Linked DNA regions of Homo sapiens: region 2 is linked to region 1. Evidence: fine-mapped expression QTL. Tissue or cell type: whole blood. Region 1 holds a variant in brackets; the other region holds the start of a gene. All regions are shown on one strand. Distances are from middle to middle.

The links. PIP is the estimated chance that this variant, and not a neighbour inherited with it, causes the effect.
Region 2: GPR160 starts here. The variant in region 1 is fine-mapped to the expression of GPR160 in whole blood (INTERVAL, PIP 0.99).

The regions. Positions count from the first base shown.
Region 1 is chr3:170,448,063-170,456,171 of GRCh38, reverse strand. No RefSeq gene overlaps it. Among named protein-coding and RNA genes, the nearest start is that of SLC7A14-AS1, 15 kb to the left of the region's middle. The variant G/T (reference allele first, on the strand shown) is at 4,078.
Region 2 is chr3:170,033,884-170,041,992 of GRCh38, reverse strand. It overlaps GPR160 (G protein-coupled receptor 160), which reads right to left and starts at 3,998. Exons shown (of 4, transcript NM_014373.3): 1 at 3,778-3,998; 2 at 2,950-3,078. RefSeq lists silencers at 2,974-3,023, 3,184-3,233, 3,544-4,023 and an enhancer at 2,619-3,118.

The DNA.
Region 1 (8,109 bases):
GCAGACAAAAAGGAACACTTACACACTGTTCGTGGGAATATAAATTAGTCCAGCCACTGTAAAAAGCAGTCTGGAGATTTCTCAAAGAACTTAAAACAGGCCGGGCACAGTGGCTCACTCCTGTAATCCCAGCTGTTTGGGAGGCTGAGATGGGTGGATCACTTGAGGTCAGGAGTTCAAGAACAGCCTGGCCAACATGGTGAAATCCCATCTCTAAAAATACAAAAATTAGCCAGATGTGCTAGCGCACATCTGTAATCCTAGCAACTTGGGAGGCTGAGGCAGGAGAGTCACTTGAGCCTAGGAAGTAGAGGTTGCAGTGAGCCGAGATCACACCACTACACTCCAACCTGAGCAACACAGCGAGACTCCATCTCAAAAAAAAAAAAAAAAAAAAAAAAAAAACAGAGCTACCATTTGACCCAGCAATCCCATTACTGGGTATATACCCAAAAAAAATAATTGTTCTACCTTCTGCCAAAAAGACACACGAACTTGTACATTCATCACTGCACCATTCATAATAGCACAGACATAGAATCAACCCAGGTGCCCTATCAATGGTAGATTGTATAAGGAAAATGTGGTACAGATATACCATGGAATACTATGCAGCTGTAAAAAAGAATGAAATCATGTCTTTTGCAGCAGCATGGATGCAGCTGGAGGCCATAATCTTAAAAAAAATTAACATAGGAACAGAAAACCAAATACCACATGTTCTCATTTATAAGTGGGAGCTAAACACTGAGCATTCATGGATATAAATATGGGAACAACAGACACTGTGGACTACTTGGGGTTGGGGAAAGAACTACCTATTGGGTGCTATGCTCACTACCTGGGTGATGGAACCCATACTCCAAACCACAGCATCACGCAATAACCCCATGTAACAAAGCTGCACATGGACCCCTGTATCTAAAATAAAAGTTGAAATTTTAAAAAATAATAAATACTTGATTAGAAATTTAGGAGATCTTCATAAGCCAAACAGTTCTTCCACATTTTATTCCCAGCTATCAACAGTTCGCTGACTGGCAAAGAGAGCCCTTTCTGTGCCAAATTCTCAAATTCCTCCTCTTTCCCCACCTGAGGGTAGGCCCTTCCATGCTCTCATCAGCCTCAATCAAATCCAGGGCAGAAAAAACACCCAGCTCTGAGGCTCAGAGAGAAAACCACATGCTCCCATTTCTAAAACCTAAAAATTCAAACTTTTCGAACTTTTATTATATATATGTGTTAGCCTGATGCTTACCCATCAGAGCCATGCAGAGTGTTTTTAGGAAGGAATGAGCCCTTTGTAGGTCAATTAACTCGATGAGATAAGCATTGCAGCAGGCTTTCCTTCAGAGAGGGGAAATACGAATGATTTCTGACTCTAACTTCAAACAGAGCAACAGGAATGCAATTTGGAACATAATCCAAAGAGGAAATAGTCCATCCCAATTCAATTCTGGTGGCTGGAAGACTGATTTAATTTCCTTCCTAGTGGAGACACTCCTCACAGGGTGGGGTGGGGAGGAGCGAGGGGTTTCCTGGCCACGGGATTTCCCTGTTTCATGAAGCTCTATTTCCAAAGCAGCCCCTTTCATGTACTGAGATTAAGTTTAAGATGCGGATGCAATGTCCTTGGCTTCCTCACTCGTCATGTCAATCTTTTAAGAGAAGGTGGAGATTGGATTAACCAACGTTGATGGAAAGGGCAGGGAAGGAGATGTCCTCCAAGGATGCTTCCATAGCAAGCTGTGAGCCTTGAGGAGCCGCAGAAGAAAGCACCTCTGCCCTATCTGCTCTCTGATGCCAGAAATTCCTCCATTGGAAACAAAGTCCCGCGTTCCTCAATAAGGAGATTGTTAAGTGCCTTCACAGTTAACTCCCCCTGGAAGAAGGAACACAGCGTCTTAATTCACCCACGTTGAGATATGAACGACTGACATCATCAGTTCCTTCTGAGAAAGCAGGTCTTCACAAGCCATGAGAAAAAATATTCTGAGGTCCCTGGGTGCCTGAGAGGGAATTAAGGGGACTCAAGTACAGAAGGGAGAGGCCAGGGTCCCAAAGACATACTTCACAACTTTTCCCCAAGATAGCGCTAAATACAACAAGGACTGGAAGACACCATAAACCTGCCCTGAAGTGAAATCCCCAAGGACCACTCTGAGGGGAGAGATGGCGGTGGGGGGGCGGGGGGGTGGAGCAAAGAGGCTCGGACTTAGAGAGACCAGGATCGCCATTGCTGTCTATGTAAATGCAGGCAAGCCAGGAGGGCAGTGAACGTGCTCTCCTGCTTCCTGCTGCACGCTGGCACCTAGTGCGGAGCCTGGGGCACAAGAGGCACTCAATAAATATTTCCTGAAGGAGTGAATACATACAAGTTAAGTTTTCCGGCCGGGTGCAGTGGCTCACACCTGTAATCCCAGCACTTTGGGAGGCCGAGGAGGGCAGATAACTTGAGTGACTTCGAGACCAGCCTGGCCAACATGGTGAAACCTCGTCTCTACTAAAAATACGAAAACTAGCCAGGCGTGGTGGCGGACGCCTATAATCCCAGCTACTCAGGAGGCTGAGCCAGGAGAATCGCTTGAACCAGGGAGGCGGAGATTGCAGTCAGCTGGGATAGCGCCATTGCACTCCAGCCTGGGGTAACAAGAGCGAAACTGTGTCTCAAAAAAAAAAAAAAAAAGGAGTTAAGTTTTCCCTCATCATCCAGATACCCTCGCTATGCTCCCGCCAAAAGCAGAGAACAATTTCAATCACTCTGTTTAAATATTCAACAGTTCTATCTGAAAGAATTCAGATCCTTTAATCACTTTTAGAAAATGATCCTAAGAAAATAAATCACCAGATGTATTTATCTGTAACTACAGGGGAAAAAAATACCAAAAAAAAAATTGAAATCGACTTAATGCCCCAAACTAGAAATTGTTTAAATTAATTATGGTGTATCTATAAAACTCAATACTGTATAGCCATCTAAAAACAAGTTTTCAAAGAATGTTTAATGACATAAGGAATGGCAATTATGTTAAATTGTAAAAGTAGGATGCAAAATGTATATTTAGTATATATTTAGTTTTGAATAAGTGTGTATGTTATATAGCATAGAAAAATATTTGGAAGAAGATTATATAAAGTGTTAATGATTGTTACCTCTAAAAATTCTGATTTGGGGTGGTTTTGCATTTTCTTTTTCATACTTTTTTGTTTTCTCTAGCTGTTCTTCAAAGCATATTTTACTTTTCTAATCAGAAATAAAAATAATCTTTATTTCTTATGACAGAAGGGCCTTTTCAAATATTTGTCATGTTCTCACTGACAAACCAAGAAGGCATCCTGGCACCTTTTTCCAAACAATGACACAAATAATAGAAGCTAGCCTCTCAAGGCCACATCATACACAGGCCACTCTCTCTACATGGCATATATAGGTTTAGGATGCTTATATTCCATCAGCAGAAGGAAGTCACACTCAGAGTTCATTAGCTTGGATGTCTGGCCTACATACATATTGGTTTTGTTTTGTTTCTTTCAGGATGTAAGTATGATTTAATCATTTCATACATATAAATTCTCAGTTAGGAAGAAAAGTGTATGGGGGTTCTGGAAATATGGTCACCTTCATGATAGCATAGAATACCATATCTATAGGTCAGCCTTGAACTTAGATGTCATTGATCTCTGAAGAATGTCATAACACTGCCTTATTCATAACATAGTGCTACAACATAAACCCCAAACATATATATTGTTAAGGACTAAATATTAGTGTGAATTTGTTCCAGATGTCAAAGATTTCCAGAAAATTACAATTTTAAAGGACAAATGCATACATCTGTGTATTTCACTGTAAATATTCAGCTTAATTGTTCCACCAAATCTGGGGATACCGCTTGCCATAATGGCCAATAATTATTTGTTAAATCAGATCGAACAGAATTTTATCCACATCTGCCAAAAATGTAATTATGTATAAAATGTGTATATGGTTCATGATTTGTAAATGAAATATATCCTTCACTAAGGTCATTTTTCCCCTTAAAATCTTCAGTGGCTCCCTACTGCCAACAGAGCAAA[G/T]CCCCTCACAGCCGCATCACACCCAGCTCTCCAGGTTCATGGCTGCCCCTCCCCCAGGCATCTTATATCCTGACCTCAACCAGCTCCTCAGTGTTTCCTGAGCACACTCTCTTTTCTTGTGTCTTCTTGAATGTCCTTGGCCCACTTGTTGGTTCAGCATACTCCCATTTATTCTTCAACTTCGTCTCAAAAGTATCTCCTCTCTTTGACTTTCTGGAATTTGCCCTCTGTCTCCCTTCCTCCCCCACAAGTTCCCATAGCAGTCTTTTTTTCATGTACATAGCATTTTACATGTTGAATACAGTTATTGGTTTATATGTCTCTCTCTCTCTTCCCCTGTGGATCAGAAGCCTCCAAAAAGATACAAAAAAGAAAATATTATTTAATTTTCTAAAATGTTTTTAATCTCAGGATTAAGAAAAATTAAGCCTCATATTTAATATGTAAGGCCTAATTTGTATCGTATTGTATTGTATCATGGAGTTTACTATGGATTTAGATGGAATCACGTATTCATCAGAGCATCCTTCTGTGGTCTGATGACCATGCGGGTCATCAGGTGCTCCCGAGGATAAAGGATCCTCATCAATGAAGAGAGGTGGGCAGTGCCACCATCACTCTTCATTTGAGATATGATAGTTGTTAGATTATAAATGCCCATTTAAGTAGACGTTTACATTGCATTATTTGTTTCTTCTAAACTAACCCCATAAAAAACAACTAGTCATTTTAAAAGATTCCTGCAAAGATACCATAAAATAGCCATTGCAGTGAAAACAGTGGAGCCAAAAATACAAAAGTTTGCCATGTAACAAGAATTTCAAAACAAAATAAGGCTGGGCACAGTGGCTCACGCCTGTAATCCCAGCACATTGGGAGGACGAGGCAGGTGGATCACCTGAGGTCAAGAGTTTGAGACCAGCCTGGCCAACGTGGTGAAACCCCATCCCTACTAAACATAAAAAATTAGCCAGGTGTGGTGCAGGGCGCCTGTAATCTCAGCTACTTATGAGGTGGAGGCAGGAGAATCGCTTGAACCCCAGAGGCAGAGATTGCAATGAGCTGAGATCGTGCCATTGCACTTCAGCCTGGGCAACAGAGTGAGACTCTGTCTCCAAAAAAATAAATAAATAAATAAAATAAAAATAAGCACTGTTAATCTGTGATTTTATGAGAAATAATCCGTGAACTCATGAGAAAGCAATTGCTTTTAATTGCTTTTCAAATGAAATGAGTTCTATGGAGAGACCATTTTGAACAAAGATATTTGGACAGGTATATTATCTTATTAATGAAAATATTATGTGTCATCCATAAAAATAGTCCTATCATAGATACAGAAAATTTAGAATTTTTAAACGTGGTTAAGTAATCTTACAAATCAAGAGTCTCCATGGGCTTTCAAGCCATTTTTTAGAAATACAAAAATGCAGCCGGGTGCAGTGGCTCACACCTGTAATCCTAGCACTTTGGGAGGCCAAGGCAGGGAGATCATCTGAGGTCTGGAATTTGAGACCAGCCTGGCCAACATGGTGAAACCCCGTCTCTACTGAAAAAAAGTAGCTGGGCGTGGTTGCGTGTGCCTGTAATCCCAGCTACCTGGTAGGCTAAGGCAGGAGAATTGCTGCAACCTGGGAGGTGGAGGCTGCAGCGAACCAAGATTGCACCATTGCACTCCAGCCTGGGTGATAGAGTGAGACTCCATCTCAAAAAAAAAAAAAAAAAGAAAAAAGAAAAGAAAAGAAAAAGAAATGCAACATATTCTGATTAGCTTGCAAGAACAACTGAAAGGCATCAAGGAAAATGGAGAAACTACTGCCAAATTTTAATGTAAATCTTTGCAAAATGTTTAATATAAATCTTTGCATTATACCCTTTGACGCAGGGTATAACGATATGATTATGTGTTTCTGCTGTATGGTTCTATGTATCCATATAAGATTTTTTTTTCAGCTAAAGCAGCCACTGAAACCAAGTAATAAAATTAACTGAACTAAGAATCAGACCTTTGAATGTTTTTATCCCAAATATTAAATAATGAAGTAGGTTCAAATATTGATCTCACTAAAATATTACTAACAAAAAAGAAAAAAGCTTGTATCATTAATAAATAATATGAAATAAAATTAAAATGTTATTTCATTTTTTCCTATTATTTAACTTTTTGTGTACATTTTATGCTGTACATGATACATTATTACAGCTGCACATCTTTATACAATTAAATAAACATAAGTATGGACATTTATTGCCAGAGGAGGTAGTTAATAAAAGTTTGCAGAATGAGAATCTTCTTATAAGATCTAATAGTATAGATATAAAAAATGGCATGAGTCCTATACATAAAATGTGAAGAAAGATATAAAAAGGGGGGGACGGGAAGAGAAAAAGAAACTGTTGGGAGGCCATGGTCTGTTTTTTTATAATAATCAAACAGAGAGAAATCCTCTCTAAAAATTTCGGTGGCCTAATATTTAAGCTACACCACTGGTTAAAAGACAAAAATGTGGAATTATCTATCCATATAAGAAAGTATATTAGAGAAGAATTATATCTTGAAGTTTAGTGGCATTTTCTAGCAAACTCTCAAGATCTGATCATTAAAAAATAAATTCATTTGACAGAACAAAGGCACATTCTAGTATCTTTCCTAAGAACACACTAATTTGAATTCATAATAGGATGAATTCTAAGTTTCTAAAAAATGCCCAGCTGGTTATTGAAAAAAAAAATAGATGGAAATTAGAGGCATTTTTATCACTTATCATTATATAGCAATTTAGTGTTTGAAAATGAGATTGAAACATGTTTTGTTTTCTTCTCACGCATCCCGTGGAACTTTTGTTTCCGCTTAACAGGTTAGAAGGCGGATGCACGTGAAGCTAATGCACTTATTGCTGTACCCATATCTTCAGTTGCCCACAAAATATTTTACCTCAATTCTTCAGCAAAACTTGAATCTTAAAAACTGCTCTTTTCAGGTGCTGGAATTCATTTAATGACCTAATGAGACGAGGAGAGCAAATTTGATGGCAACCAAATGAACTATGGATGGGGCAAAGGGACAGGAGACAATTGGAGAAGAAATAAAAGGAAAAACAACTTTCACTGTGGTGGGGGCAAACATATGGAACTTGTTAACTTCAAGTGACATTGCTAGCTGAAACATTATGGGGTTCAAGGAGGGTTCAGAGGTATTCATGGGGAAAAACTCTCTAACAGGCTACGAAGTGAAAGTTGGATTTGTTCCGGAGACAACGCCTGGCTTTGGAGGTGGCCCTCCAGGAGGACACTTACCCAATCCTTCTCCCCATCAGGAGCACAGCAGCTACCCCAGCCTGACACAGTGCAAGATTCTTTTGTCCTTATCATGACATCAGAAATAAATTCCAAATCTTAATACACAGAAGGAGTCTTTGATGGCCTCCCAGCCACAGCTTGGCCCAGCACCCTCCCTTGGAGGGAAAGTACAGGACTGAGAAATCAGAATCCTGGCTCTCTTTCTTTTCCATCCTGAGGCCAATTTTTTTTTTAACAATACCAAGGCTCTGTCTTCTCTCTAGGGGTCTTCCAGGATCAAAAGTGGCTTAAAAAGACCTCTTGATCTAGTGTGCACTCTTGTTTTATTTTCAAGTTTTAAGCCAAAACTGGTTAACTTCAAAAGGGCTATGTGCAAAAATCCTAATATTGTTTTCCTAAAGAGGTCTTGTTGTATGATTGATATTTTGAGGGTTTTCCAGCCCAGTGATTTCTTTGCTGAAAACAGAGCATACCCACTCGTTTTGGCATTTCGTTTGCCAACCAAATCTATAGCCTGAACACTGTCCATTCCCTTGCCTTAACAACACTGGGACTTGCTAACAAGTGCTGCCCCCAGTGAACCACACCTACCAAAAAGTATTTGTGTGTGCCTTTACTTTCTGCATACATCCCTGTCATTAATTAGGACCTCAAGGCCTACGAGAGAGTTTATTTCCTTCCATAGAGAATTCCCCTTATTTCCTGAAAATCTGTTTGTGACGTGGTAGAGAA
Region 2 (8,109 bases), 410 kb after region 1:
GTGAATCAGGGCGAAATGGTGTCACATTTGTGGTAAGTCCTTAAAATGGCTATTAGCAATCAACTCTCCAGAGTCCAAATCTACCACTCTCCTACAGAGGAGAGTAAACATTAGTTTGGTCACTAAAGGGCCTGGCAAGTTTCTTTTCTCTTTCCATGCTTTTAGGGAACTAGAGAGGAAACTGAGGTATAAAATAAAGTTACGTGACGGTTGCATACTTCTTTCATTCATACCAAGAAAACAGAGCCACAAACCAAACAATTTCACTTCATTTAAGAACCATCATGAATTCACTGTGGTATCTCCCCCCACTGTAAGGGGATTTTTGTTGGTTGTCTCATTATTTTCCCATCACAGCAGTGAAATTAGGACATGCTTCAGCATTCCTCAACCGAATCTTAAAACATCTTTACGGCCGGGCGCGATGGCTCACGCCTGTAATCCCAACACTTTGGGAGGCTGAGGCGGGCAGATCACGAGGTCAACAGATGGAGACCACGGTGAAACCCCGTCTCTACTAAAAATTAGCCGGGCGTGGTGGCGGGCGCCTGTAGTCCCAGCTGCTCGGGAGGCTGAGGCAGGAGAATGGCGTGAACCCGGGAGGTGGAGCTTGCAGTGAGCCGAGATCACGCCACTGCACTCCAGCCTGGGTGACAGAGCAAGACTCCGTCTCAAAAAAAAAAAAAAAAAAAAATCTTTACATCCTTTAGACTAGTGAATCTACACGAGCAAGGTCTACGCCGGGGAGATTCACCGAACACTTCAACTTTTAACTGTCCCAGATCTCATCTCTTTGACTTGTTTTATCTTTAAATCAAAAGGCATTACATTCAGTTATACTGAAGCGACTAAAAAATGTGGATTTACCTTTTGGAAATATACCTCCCCTTCCTCCCTCTACTAACTTCAACAGCTCCCTCTCAGAATCACTATTCCAAAGTACTGACCAAGCATGACAGAATGAGTAGGAATTATAGGCTAAATCTGGAGAAAAGAAATCTGGAGCAAGCCTGATGAAGATATAGCTATTACTCCTTCCTTACCCTCTTTCAAGCATGATTCTTAAAAAAAATGTGTTACCACCATGCAGAACTTTTAGGAGTCAGTGCTTTGCTAAATATTTACATGTCATGATCGCTGAAGCAAACAAGATAAAGATGAAATAGGCAACACAACACAGCTAAGCTCTCTCTCAAGCAATAAGCAGCCCTCTACTCATCTTGTGCTTTGTTTTCATCATATACACTTTTTACTGAGGCATGCAATGCTTTCAGAAGTGTACATAAATCCTAAGTGCATACCGACACGTGTGTTCACTACTGCAAACTCTGTTTTTTGATGAACACAACTTGGAAGGGATTTGGGCAATTAGGAAAAACTGCTAACACGTTTTATACAATCCGCCCGACCGGAGGCAATCAACCCCCAGGCTTGCTAATGCCCTTTGTGTAAAAAAAGCTGACCTAGCCTCCACCTGCATCAACTTGATCCGCTCAGCTTTGTCACACTCAGCAAACACCCTCTGCCTTCTGAGCAAAATAAATCGGCACCTCCAGTAGGGAGAAAAAAACTTTTTATGACCGAGTCTGGAGAAGCAGCCTTGACACCCAATTTACAAAGAACGAGCGTCTGCGGAAGACCTTGCATCTAGACTCGGCTGCAGTGCCAAACCTACCTTATGCAAAAAAGCTCCACAAGTGGTGGTGTTCTGTTTAAAGGAAAATGCCAAACACACACAAATACTGAAACAATAGCATAAGGACTTCCATAACCATCATCCAGCTTCAACTATTTTTATTTTTGTTTTACTTTAAGTTCTGGGATACAGGTGCTGAATGTGCAGGTTTGTTAATAGGTATACATGTGCCATGGTGTTTTGCTGCACCTATCAACCCGTCATCTAGGTTTTAAGCCCTGCATGCATTAGGTATTTGTCCTAGTGCTCTCCCTCCCCTTTCCCCCCACCCTCCGACAGGCCCCCGTGCCTGAAGTTCCCCTGCCTGTGTCCATGTGTTCTTCCCAGCTTCAACTATTAACAATCCATGAACAATCTCCTCTCATCTTGTTCCCCTCCCTTCTCTGCTAGCATCTAAAACTGAATAATTCTGAAGCAAATCCCAAAGCTGTATTTCAACTTCAGTCTGTGTCTCTACAGGGATTTTAAAAACCTTAATCAGGATACCGTTACCAAAAGTAACTAAACAGAACTATTATAATTTCCTTGATACCATCAAATAATCAGTAGAAATGTCCTTCATCGTCTCCTTATTTATTTATTTATTTTGAGACGGAGTCTCGCTCTGCCTCCCAGGCTGGAGTGCAGTGGCGCCATCTCGGCTTACTGCAACCTCCGCCTCCCGGGTTCAAGCGATTCTCCTACCTCAGCCTTCCCGAGTAGCCGGGATTACAGGCGCGTGTCACCACACCCAGCTAATTTTTGTATTTTTAGTAGAGAAGGGTTTCACCATGTTGGCCAGGCTGGTCTCGAACCCCTGACCTCAGGTGATCCACCCACCTCGGCCTCCCAAAGTGCTGGGATTACAGGTGTGAGCCACCGCACTCGGGCATCATCTCCATTTTAAAAAACATTCATCAAATCAGGATCCAACCAACGTCCACACCTTGTATTGCCACCGAATTTCTCTTAAATCGTTTTGAAACTGCACACAGGTCCTCCTCCCTGCAATTCGCATAGCAACCAAGCTGATCCTCACTGACAATTTCCAAATAACTATAATAACTCTATTCTGGAGATATCACAAGTGCCGGTCTTAGAGCTTGTCAAATGTATACATATATGTTTATATTTATATATAAATGCACAAAAGCACACAAGAAACCATTTCACTCGAAGCAATAACAATCCTGAGAGCTAAACACTCGTTCATGTCTTTTGTGATGCTTCTCGGTGGGGGTTATCTCTGGGATTTAAGCGACACTTCCCCTTACCGGAGACATTTGCGCAAGTGTAGGACGAAGCGAGAGCGGTTCCTTCCAGCCGAACCTGCCTCCGGAGGCCCGGTCCGTGCGTTCGTCTCCGGACTGCAGGGGGCGGCCCTGCCACCACCTCGAGGCCACCTGCGCAGGTGAGAAAAGGAGTTTCAGTCTCCGGGTTCCTGGGGGTGGTCGCAGGTAATCTAGAGGGAATTTTGAGCCAGCCAGGATGGTCATCCAGGAACCTACCCGGACGCAACGGCCTCGGAAAACAAATAGCCGGGCAAGGCCCTGGGGCTTAATCCCAGTGGCGGGCGCGGGCGGGGGCGCCGTCCCCAACGCTCGAGGCCAGGGGAGGGGAGGCAAAGTCGGCCCCAATGAATGCACGCACGCGCGCGCGCGCGCGTGTGTGTGAGACTATTCACCTCTGGGCGCCAGGAAAGAGCGAAGAGTTGCATACACCCATTTCTATAACCTTGCTGGGTTTGTCATGTTTAAAAAGCATCTCCCCTGGAGAGAGGGTGGCGAGTCTCTGGGTGCGGGACACGCCCATTCCCCAGACCCCCTGCCCTCAAACCCACGACAGACCCCAGTTGCTAAGGCTCCGCGGTAATCCCCATCCCGAAGCAGGAAGGCTCGGGCGTCCGGGCTCCACTCCTGGATCTCTTAAGTAGCAGAGAACCCCCAGCCCCTGAGTTCCTGCAAAGGAAATTCCTTCCCCTCCCAGGCGCGCTGAACGCCCGGCCAGGGAGGCTGGGAGCGGCGCGGGGACCGTTCGCCGCCCCGAGGCTGGGACGCCGGTGGCGAGAGCGCCGGGCGCCCTCCACCTGCGCCCGCACTCACCCGAGGATCGATGGCTGTCGGCTCCGCAAGGTTGAGGCCCCGACACCTGCAGCGCCCGTGCCCAGGTGACCGCCCGAGGGAGGGGCGAGGGCCCAGCTCGCCCGCCTGGTCCCGCCCCGCCCCGCCCCGCCCCGCGCGCTCCCGGGAGGGGCAGGGGAGCACGGCCCCGGGACCCCGCGGCGACCCTGCTGTGGCTCAGCCGGCTCCAGACCAGGAAATGCGGGCGTCAGAGACGGGCAACCTTTGAGCGCGCACGTCCCGTCCGGGCCCAACGAAACAAGGGCCGGAGGGCGCCGCCTGCCGGCGGGACGGAAAGATATCACAGAGACTGTCACCCCCCGCCGGCTAGGAGAGGGCTGAGTTGAGGCTGGCAGAGGGACGCAGCCAGGGGTGCGCAGTGCGGGAGCCGCTTGGGGGCTCAGTGAGACCCCCTTCCTCATGCCACATCTTGAGGACCCGGCCCCTGTCCTAGGAGCTCCCCATCTCCCCAGCAGGCGGGCGAGCGGGGGCCACTGGGTCAGGGCCTCTCCTTCCCTTACCTCTGCAAATGTAAACTTGGCAGTTGTCTCCAGATAAGAGTTTACACAGGGTGGCCAGGCGGTGGCTCATGCCTGTAATCCTAGCACTTTGGGAGGTCAAGGTGGGCGGATCACTTGAGGTCAGGAGTTTGAGACCAGCCTGGCCAACATGGTCCACGTTGGTCCCCATGTCTACTAAAAATACAAAAATTAGCCGGGCTTGGTGGCACGCACCTGTAATCCCAGCTATTTGGGAAGCTGAGGCACGAGAATCGCTTGAACCCAGGAGGCGGAGGTTGCAGTGAGCTAAGACCGCACCACTGCACTCCAGCCTGGGCAGCAACAGCAAGACTCCGTATCAAAAAAAAAAAAAAAAAAAAAAAAAAAAAAAAAAAAGAGTATACACAGGGTGACAGAACTTCTTGAAACTTGTATGCTTCTAAGCAACCGCCTGCAGTGTACTGTGAATTCAGATTTTTAAATAAAAATCTGCAAATATTAAATAGCCCATATATTGCATTGCCTTTTTTGTGTCAACAGTGCTAATTTGTTGTCATTCAACAAATATTTGTTGAGCACCTACGACTTGCCGGTCATTTAAACATTTAAAATATCGAACAATTAGGCCAGCGCAGTGGCTCAAGCCTGTAATCCCAGCACTTTGGGAGGCCGAGGCGGGTGGATCACTTGAGGTCACGAGTTCAAGACCAGCCTGGCCAACATGGTGAAACCCTGCCTCTACTAAAAATACAAAAATTAGTTGGGCGTAATGGCACATGCCTGTAGTCCCAGCTACTTGGGAGGCTGAGGCAGGAGAATGACTTGAACCCAGGAGGCAGAGGTTGCAGTGAACCAAGATCACGCCATTACACTCCAGCCTGGGCAACAGAGACAGACTTCATCTGAAACAAATAAAATAAAATAAAATATTGCACAATTTCTTCCTTCTCCTCTTCACGCAGAGCCTTGAACAAGGGGAGTGTCCTGAGCCTCTCAACCTCTCTGAGTGTCATAGCAGTTAGAGATTAAAGATGACCATGTCCATACACGTTTGTATCTCTCCACAATGTCAGTCTTTTTTTTTTTTTAAATGCTATTTCAATCACAAAATCCAGGAGCTACATGGAGTTCCCAAGGAGGCAATTCTCCTTAGTCCTTCCCATTCACTCTGTAGTCAGAGCACATAGGTTCAAGCCACTCCATAAGTCAGTAAATATTGCAAACCATACATACTAGTATACTTAATCACTATACGAATGTTGTAGATTAAACATTCCACAACAAAGTAATATTTAACATCAAGACGAAGAAGAGGAGAAAGGGTTAATGAACCAGTCCAAAGGGAGGGAAGAAGACAAAGGGAGTCCTGGTCTGGGCCTGGTGGTCTTGCAAGGAAGAGTCTTTGATGTGGCAGAGCTTTCGGTGGCAAATTCTGAGTTCTTATCATGAGTGACTGCAAGACGGTGTTAGTGAAGACAGCCAAGCTGAAGGCTTCGCTCTTTTACAGTCAGAGGGTCCTCTGGTGAGAACTTATAGTGGATGAGTGTGCTTGTTTGTGTTCTTTTTTAAAATTTGTTCGTCAAGCAAAACATCTTATCCTTGTTAGCAAAGTGCCCATGAAATATAAAATGGAGGGTTTTTCTAAGATGGAATTAGTTACCTCAAGGGTGGTTTATACACTGAGAGTCTGGACTAGCCTTGCAAGGAACTCAGTAATTGCCCAAGGGTGCAAGAAGAACCCTGATAGAATTAAGTGTGGGTTGCTAGGGAGACTGAGGAGCAGCTTCACCTGGCCTGGAGTGGCAGAGAGAACTTCCTGGAGAAGTGCAGAGGCCAACTGAATCACAGAGGAGTACCGGGTTCAACGGGATGTGAGGTGCTTCCGCCAAGATTCCAACGTGTGCAAAGTGGGAAGTGGAAAGCCAGGCAGAGAGTTCATGTTCTAATAAGGGAATGGCAAGTGGGTCAGAAGACCTGAGAGGGAGAGGATGGGAGTTGAGTTAGAGCAGAGGGCATGGGGGCCAAATCATACTCATAACAAAAATAACCATCATCTAGGGAGTGGATAGTATAGAACAGGAGCTGGACATACATAACTTCAAACGAGCCTCACGCCAACCCTGCAAGGTAGGGTTATTACTCTCCTTTATAGAAGAGGAAAATGAGAGCCGGGCACAGTGGCTCACACCTGTAATCTCAGCACTTTGGGAGGCTGAGGTGGGCAGACTGCATGAGGTCAGAAGTTTGAGACCAGCCTGGCCAACATGGTGAAACCCCGTCTCTACTAAAAATACAAAAATTAGCCAGGCATGGTGGCGGGCGCCTGTAATCCCAGCTACTCAGGAAGCTGAGGCAGGAGAATCACTTGAACCTGGGAAGCGGAGGTTGCAGTGAGCTGAGATCACACCATTGCACTCCAGCCTGGGCGACAAGAGCGAGACTCTGTCTCAAAAAAAAAAAAAAAAAAAAAAAAGAAGAGGAAAATGAGACTGAGACCCAGGAAGGAGAGACATATTGCTAGTGACAAGGCTGGGGTAGGGTAGCTCTGAGCAGCCAGGCTGCCCTGTCAATGCCTCTCTCCAGGCGGATCTGGGAGGCTGGATTTATCTTCAAATACTTTCAGCATCCCCAAGTGCCTGCCACTCTCCCACCATTTCTTAAGCCGATGTCAACAACTGCCCTGAAGTCTCTCTGTCTAGAGATGATGTGTACATGGGTCCGCATACCAGACTCCTCCTGAGGGGAACTCTGTCTCAGGGGCTGGTGGAGGAACTGTGGCAGACAGAGACCTTGGTTGCTCCCCACTGTCCATTCTTTCCTTCTTCTGTAATAAAGTCATGTGCTGCAATGACATTCTGGTTAACAATGGATCACATCTACAACAGTGGCCTCACAAGGTTAGAATGGAGCTGACAAATTCCTATCACCTAGTGATATCTTGATGATACTGACCCTGTGTAGGCCTGCACCTTTGTTTTTAAGAAAAAAAGTTTAAAAGGTAAATAAATGCATTTTCAAAATGGGAAAAATAAGCTTATAGAATAAGAATAGAAGAAAATATTTTTGTACAGCTGAAACGTATTTGTGTTTTAAGGCGTATTATTACAAAAGAGTCAAAAAGTTAAAAAAAAATTTAAAGTTTACAAAGTAAAAAAGTTACAGTAAGCCAAGATTAACTTATTGTTAGTGTAGCCTAAATGTAGTGTTTATAAAGTCTGCGGTAGTGGACAGTAATATCCTAGGCCTTTTCATTCACTCACCCACAGCAACTTCCAGCCCTGCAAGCTCCATTCATGGTAAGTGCTCTATACGGGTATACCGTTTTTATCTTTTATATTGTATTTTTACTGTGCCTCTTCTATGTTTAGAGACATAAATTCTTACCGTTGTCTACAGTATTCAGTACAGTTGCCTACAGTATTCAGTACAGTCACATGCTGTGGAAGTTTGCAGCCTAGAAGCAATAGGCTATACCATATAACTTAGGTGTGTAGTAGGCTATACCATCTAAGTTTGTGTAAGTACACTCCATGTTCACAAAATGAAATTGCCTAAAGACGCATTTCTCAGAATGTATCCCTGTCATTAAGGGGCTGTAATAGAACTGAAGCTAAGCCCAGAGCTTCGTGGAACAAAGACTATCTTTCCCTGCCTCCTTGTAGCAAAATGCATCAACAGTGGTGCCCAGAGCTCCTAGAAATCCAGAGTCCAGTGGTACTTCCGAGGCGGCTTCTCCTCTCCCGACATCCCTGATCCGTCAGTTCTTTACGGGGCACTGCTAACTGCCTCCTCAAATCCATTCTCGCCTTCTTAA